Linked DNA regions of Homo sapiens. The protein of the gene in region 1 purifies or fractionates together with the protein of each later gene. This does not show direct contact. Each region holds a gene or a part of one and is shown on either strand. Other genes may lie near its edges.

Evidence for each region. The genes of interacting proteins can lie anywhere in the genome.
Region 2: the proteins of EDNRB (region 1) and EXOC2 purify together in Homo sapiens (affinity purification with mass spectrometry; 2 studies listed by BioGRID and IntAct, with this or other methods). This does not show direct contact.

Annotation. Positions count from the first base shown.
Region 1 is NC_000013.11:77,912,332-77,915,831, forward strand, and holds part of EDNRB (endothelin receptor type B isoform 1 precursor), read right to left. Parts: intron 1-3,500. UniProt on the Homo sapiens protein: Non-specific receptor for endothelin 1, 2, and 3. Mediates its action by association with G proteins that activate a phosphatidylinositol-calcium second messenger system.
Region 2 is NC_000006.12:487,140-490,639, reverse strand, and holds part of EXOC2 (exocyst complex component 2), read left to right. Parts: intron 1-1,601; coding exon 1,602-1,661; intron 1,662-3,500. UniProt on the Homo sapiens protein: Component of the exocyst complex involved in the docking of exocytic vesicles with fusion sites on the plasma membrane.

The sequences.
Region 1 (3,500 bases):
TTGCATTGCCCAAGGCCAAGTGCTTACTGACCATTTTGTCACAGAAATCTATGACCAACATGTGAAACAGTGAATTGGGAATATGAAGTCTGAGTTTCTGGTTGATTTGAATTCTGCTATCAACCTGTTATCTGACTATGACAATACTTTAATACAGAAGGAATCAAGCTTTCTTTTTCTTTTTCATTTGGACATCAGTAAAAATATGAGTGGAAAAAGCCCACTACTCTTATGTCTTCTGTATAACATCATTTGTCTGAAGCATTTGTGTAGTATTGACAGTTGCAGCCACTATGATAGATGGGTGTCAGGGTATTTGCTGTATTGTTAACTGATTCCAGGTCATTCAAGCTAAAAGCCTGGCTTTTAATTAACACGTTTTAAAAGTTAATACTTTAAATGCACTTAATTGGTGCTCCTTAAAAATTATTTTGCTTTACATAAATCATACAGGTTCCACTTTTGGTTCAGAATGCTTATGCTGGTAAAATATCTTTAAATATTACTAAAATATTTCAGTTACTTGACTGGAAATGAGAACATTGTTATTAAACTGGGATAAATTAGACTCCTCTCCCAATGATACCCTTACTTCTTGTGTTGCTATATATGCATATGCTTCAGTTTACTGATTGGAATATGTGAATATACTTCAGTTTACTGACTGGAAAATTATAACTTCAAAAGTTGGTGGTGTTCCATCAACTTTTACTTTTAACTACAAAACTAGTTAATTATACATAAACTTGTTAAGTACCAGAAGTAGTCTAAGAGGATAGTGCAAAAGGTAAATTTGTTCAGAAAGATAATCCTGATTGTGTCACAAGCAGAAAATGTCTGATTACCTGCCAAGGTCACTTCACTCGAAACTCATTTGTGGGTTCAGTGAAGCAATTCCGCATTTTGACATACCAGCATTTTAATGTTATATGTTCCCACCCTTAACTAGTTAAACGTTAAAGATCAGCAGTTTTGCCTTTCAGAACTATGAATGCAGCCTCTTTGCCTCTAATAGTAGCCTACAGTTCTTAACTGTAAAACCATCTAGAAGCACTCCAGTGGGTCACCAGCCTAATTTCTAGCTCTCCATCACCACTGGACACCTGATTACCTTTGGATCCTTACCAAACTAGTTAATGTGGATATTGGTATTTGTCTTATCAGTTTGCAAGTAGATTTGTTTTTAAATGCAATTTCTTTACACATAAAGGAAGCTATATTTGAGAGCTAACTTCTTTAACTCAGTTATCCATGTAAATATAACATAAAGAGAGTTAATAAAATTCAGAAGTAATTTAAGAACTCACTATTTGCTCAAGAATTTTTAACTTCTCCCAACCTACAACCAAGTTTTGTTAAATATCATTGCCAAAGCAAACCAAGCCAAATCAACTAACCAACCAAACAACAACATAAACACATTGATAGCATCCCCAAGTATACCCGGCTGTCTTGCTTTTTATCCAGCTTTGATATCTATGCTTCTACAACTTAGTAGTGGAACACCAGGCTCTCATGTGAACAAATATCTAGATTACCCCATTTATTTTAGGATATATAGGAAGGGCAAAATAAGTAGCTTGTGAATAAGGAGAAATTCATCCTAACGTCAGGTAGTCAAGCACTGGCTTTTGGTTCTGATGTATATGTAGACTATGTAAATATTAAGCATGGTGGCCCATATACATATTACAGATAAACATTAATATGCATTTACATCCATATTGAGATATTATATAAAATAGTGATTAATACCAAGAGTACAAGAATAACTTTCTAGCACAATATGGCAATATCTTTCAAAATTACAATGCACACACATTTTGATTTAATAATTCCAGTTATAAAAATTTACCCTTCAGATGTAGTCACACATGTGTGCAAAGCCATATGTACAAACATGTCGTTTGTAGTCATGTTTGTCACGACAAAAGCTGGAAAACAAAGAATACTCAAAACGCACATACACACACATACACACATTTTAATAACATTTATCATTTCTTGCTATATGCCATGCCCTGTGCCAAATGATAGTCATCTTTTTACTTATATATTCTTATAAAACTTAACATTTTAATGTATGTACATGTACACGTGCATATATATTTAAATAAATATCTCCTTTGGATGCCTGAAGTTTTCATTGTTCTTCTGGTTGGTGTTGTGTAATGTAGGCATAGCCCTAGTGTGTGCCTATGAGAAGCGTAAGCAACGCTTATTATTTTCTGCATGTTTACATGAGTTTAAAGTTCTTCAGCAGCCTCAACTTGCTAAGTGTCCTCAGACACTTCCCTAGCCTTCAACACAGGATTTCACCCACAACACAGGAGACCTGTGAGAGTGGTATGATTCTTCCTAAAAGTTTCCAGGGACCCAGCTCCTTGAGGAAGTCCAGGCAGATCAGACATGTTTCCCAATGCTTTTCAGCTTCCCACTGCAGCAACTCCAGATAAAGTCCCACCAATTCCACAGCCTGAAGACTGTAGCTTCCAATAAGAGCTATGACATTTTGTGATTTGTCAACTTTACTGAACTCTATATTCATTAAACTCTAGATTAATGGAATAGATTCACATTGACATTTCTGGGCCTCTGGGCCCTTAGTGTGCCAACAAGAGAGTAGGAGAATTTCACAAACCCCCAGAAATTGTGTATATTGAATTCTCAAAGAGAATTATAAAACCCCACCAAAAAAATTAGAAATCACTGGTTTAGATTTAAGCCTCTCATATTAGGATATATTAAATATAGCCTTCATAACTCATTTAAATTACTTTTTTCTGAATGATCATACCTGACTACTCTGAAATTCTAAATGCATTAAAAAAACTACGTTGCCACAATTATTTAGGAGAATAAATGGCTTTTAACTGGTCCTGGATTTGATATTTTGGTAAATTAAGCCATTAGAATAACTTCCACTGATATTACACACTACAGACCAGCTGAAGGGGGTTTCAAGAGACCGAAATCCTGACTCAAATTAATTTCTGAAAATGTTTACCAAGTATTCTACTGTGGGATAGCATATTATTTGCCATAATTCCACCAAATGCTCCCAAATGAGATCCTAAAACAATACTCAAGGTTGGAGATGACCATGCAGTGCCTGAGCATGCTTTGTGCAGTGGGATGGGGTGGACCACAGGGTCTTGGGCTGGATGATCTGCTTTCAAGCCCCAGTTTCATTACTTTGTAGTGGTATGACATTAGGCAAGTTACTTCTTCACCTCTCTGACAAGTAGTTTGCCTAGATCTAAAGCAGGAATGATAACGATACCTCCTCTACAGGGTTGTTATAGTGACTTAATGAAATAAACCAAGTGCCTAGTGCATCATTAACTGGTAGCCATTATTATGATATTGTGTCTCAAGCTAAACCTAAGGCCACAAGGTAGGATTCAATAATGATGACCTTAGTGATGGGACGTAATGTGATGAATGTGTTTGTGACCCATGTAGATTAATGGATGGACAGATTTATAATGACTCATTGG
Region 2 (3,500 bases), on another chromosome or scaffold:
ATTACCTAGGAAATACTGGGTTATAGTGTTGATGTGCCTGAGAAGCCAAGTCGTATGCAAATGAAATGTTTGAGGACACTGTAATATGCTTACTCACTCATTTCCAGCATCTGATAACATGGCTTGCTGTCATTCTGTCAGCTTTGCAACTGAAAATACGTTTTCCATTTTTTCCTAACCAATGAAGTTAGCCTTTCATTCCCGTCGGTCACAGCTCACCAGCAGCCATTTTTAGTGGGCCATGTTCACTGTTGAGCCACACCTTTTCCCAGCCATCGTTTGTCTGTACAACATACTAACAGGATGGAAAGCACCCAGCCCATGTTGGATGTGTGCACACTTCATGCAAATGCCTACCCTCTTCCTGCTGACTTAGTTTTAGAGTATAAGGTACTCATCTATAGAGGAAGTTTAAAATATTCTAGGCAAGCTTTTGAGGGTGTTAAATGAGAAAATGTGCCAAATCACTTTTTAATTTTCAGTACCCTGCCAATAATATGTAGTATGTTTATCATTATTGTCATACTGTCAAAACAATTACATCACATTTCTTTCAATTAATCAAAAAGAGGTTCATAAGAAACAAGCTGATGGTGGAGGTAGCGGCAGTGGCTTCCACACCAGGAAAGAGGCCGCTGAATGTGGGAAGGGACCCGAGTGCGCCAAGCCACCCGTCCCACACCCCACCGCGCCCTCCCGGGAGCAGCTGGAGATGCCCAGCACCGGGTTTTATGACTCTGTTGGAACTTTTCAGTCTTTCTCTCTGTTGCTGTGACACTTGCCCCTGATTTGAGGAATATTGCTCAAAAACGTATTTCCTGGTAGATTGAGGATGTTTTTACAATATAAAAGCAACGACCCCCTAAAGTCAAGAATTGCAGTATTTCTTCACCTTAACCAATCATAAGAGAGATAAAAGAACTGTTCCTTTGTGAATGGTACAAGTTAATTACCACAGTCTCCCCTATGATGCTTTTCATTTGGTTTGGTAATTTTTCTAATACTTTCTCCTTGTAAAAGCTAAACATCCCACAGTTTTCTTTTTAAAATTCTTTCCTTTTACCTTCATGTAAAGAACTTACATTGAATTTTTAAAGCATCTATATAGCTCTCCATTTTTCTACAAGTTTTAAGTAGACTGTAATTATTACAAGACATTGGCTGTAGATCAGGCCCTGTGCAGGCCAAATACTGTAAACACCCCACTGTGTCATCTTTCAGAAGGTCATCCCCATTTCTTAGAGTAACTGGATTATCCCCAGCTGCTTGTTTTGAAAAGACTCCTTTTAAATTAAACATGTTCACATTAAGCTCTCCTCTATCACTAGCATCCTTTCGAAGATGTTTTTCCTTTAGCTTTTCAAGTAGCGTTTCATTTCCTATTTGAGTTTTTCTGACCCCGTTGCTACAAAGCCTCCACCTGGTAGCTACACCTTCGCTTTTACTTTTACTTTTTCTATTGTTTTTCACTTTTACTTTTTCTCATATTTCCTTGCTTCACTGGCTTTTATTGGCTTCTCAATAATTAAGGGATGCTTAAGAATTTGTCAGCAGTTCTCCTGTGCAAGGCTTCAACTTCAGTGTGGCTGTTTGTGTTTCAGGTCAAGTTTTAAGCAGGCTTTGGAAGCCCTGCCCCAGCTTTCCAGTGGAGCAGATAAAAAGTAAGTCCTGTGTGCTGTTCTTAGGAGCCAGTTGAATGTGCTCAACAAGGTTTTGTTTCCTAAAATACCTTTTAAAAATAATGATTTGGATTCTAGGAAGAGCAGAATCCAAATAAGAATCAGAATAAGCAGATATACCTACTTAATAGCGTTAGTAGGTACATCTCGTCACCTGTAACTTGCATGTCTTCTGAGTGACAGAATAAGGTAAGACCTTTCTTCTGGGTTTAGGAGAATTTAGAAGTTGGCTCTCGTTTCAAGTGACTGGTATAGAAAAGGTCTTAAGAAAGCTATCTATGACTTATTCAGTAAACTGTATTAGTAGCATACATAAGAAGTAATGGAAAAAAGAAGACAGCATAGTAAAATGCAGGAGTCGGTGATTTTTTTTTTAATTTTTGAGTAATTCAGTAGTATTTATTTTGTGTTCTATAAAATACAAAATGTTATGAAAGTAGATGTGCACATATGGCATAATAAAGTTTTATATATACATATATATTTCATTAGACCACACTGATGATCTCAACCTGAATTTAAACTTTACTACTCATAGAACAGGAAACGGACCTAAGAGAAAATCTAGGCCAGGTAAATTTCATAAATGCCCAGGCTCCCCCGAGCTGAGGCAGTCTTCATTCCTTCACCACCCGCCCTGCACGTGGCTGCCGGGCCCATAGACAGGCACATGTGGTGCACTGACTGAAATGCTGGCACCGTGAATGCAGTGCAGACTCAGTGCAGGGCAGAGAGATCACATAGGCTGGGCCATGGGGGGGAGCTGTCACATGGCATCGACGCACAGAGCAGGCAGCAGACCAGCCCTTCCACCATCAGTCCCCGGGGGCATCGCCGCCCCGCCCCGCACGCATCCCACGTGGGCACATGGCAGCTGTGCAGACAGTGCCTGCACAATCAGCCCTTTCTTCCTTTTTCTTGCTGCTTCTCTAACTTCCATCCTCTATTTGAATTGGTTCCAAACCCTGTTCATTTCTTTAAAATAAATATGATAAAAGATTGAAACAGTCACTGCTACGTTTCATATGTGGAACAGGGCTCAAAAGGTAGTGTGTCACGAACAATACACACCCTGAAATGGCCCCAGGTCAGGACTATATTTTAGATTTGCTGTGGGGATAGCATTCTAATATTGAACATTGTTAAACCGTGAAATAATCTCTTGACCTCAGTACTGTTAAACCCAGTTCTTGGTTGCTGCATCCAAACCAGGAAAACTCTAAGATCCTTCCTAGCTTTAAAAATTAGATGACTTGGGCCGGGCGCAGTGGCTCATGCCTGTAATCCCAGCACTTTGGGAGGCTGAGGTGGGCGGATCACGACTTCAGGAAATCAAGACCATCCTGGCCAACATGGTAAAACCCCGTCTCTACTAAAAATACAAAAATTAGCCGGGTGTGGTGGCGGGCACCTGTAGTTTCAGCTACTCAGGAGGCTGAGGCAGGAGAATTGCTTGAATCCGGGAGGTGGAGGTTGCAGTGAGCCGAAATCGCGCCACTGCACTCCAGCCTGGGCGACAGAGCAAAACTCCATCTGAAAAAAAGAAAAAAAATTAGATGACTGTATCACATCAGTTGGGGAAACAGATTGCGATATCAGGCAGCAAAGCGATTTGCCTAGTGGAATTAGCCCCTAACCCTGCTTGCCCTGGTGGTTAACTCACTGCTTTCGCTCCCCACTCTCTAATACCTGTTAATACAAAATGAGAGGAAGGGAAAGTCAGCAGTGGCTGCTGGGAGATGGGGTTAGGGAAGAGGCTGACTAGAGGGGCAGCAGGGGAAAGGGTGCAGCCATGCCACGTGCTGTAGCCTGTTACACTCC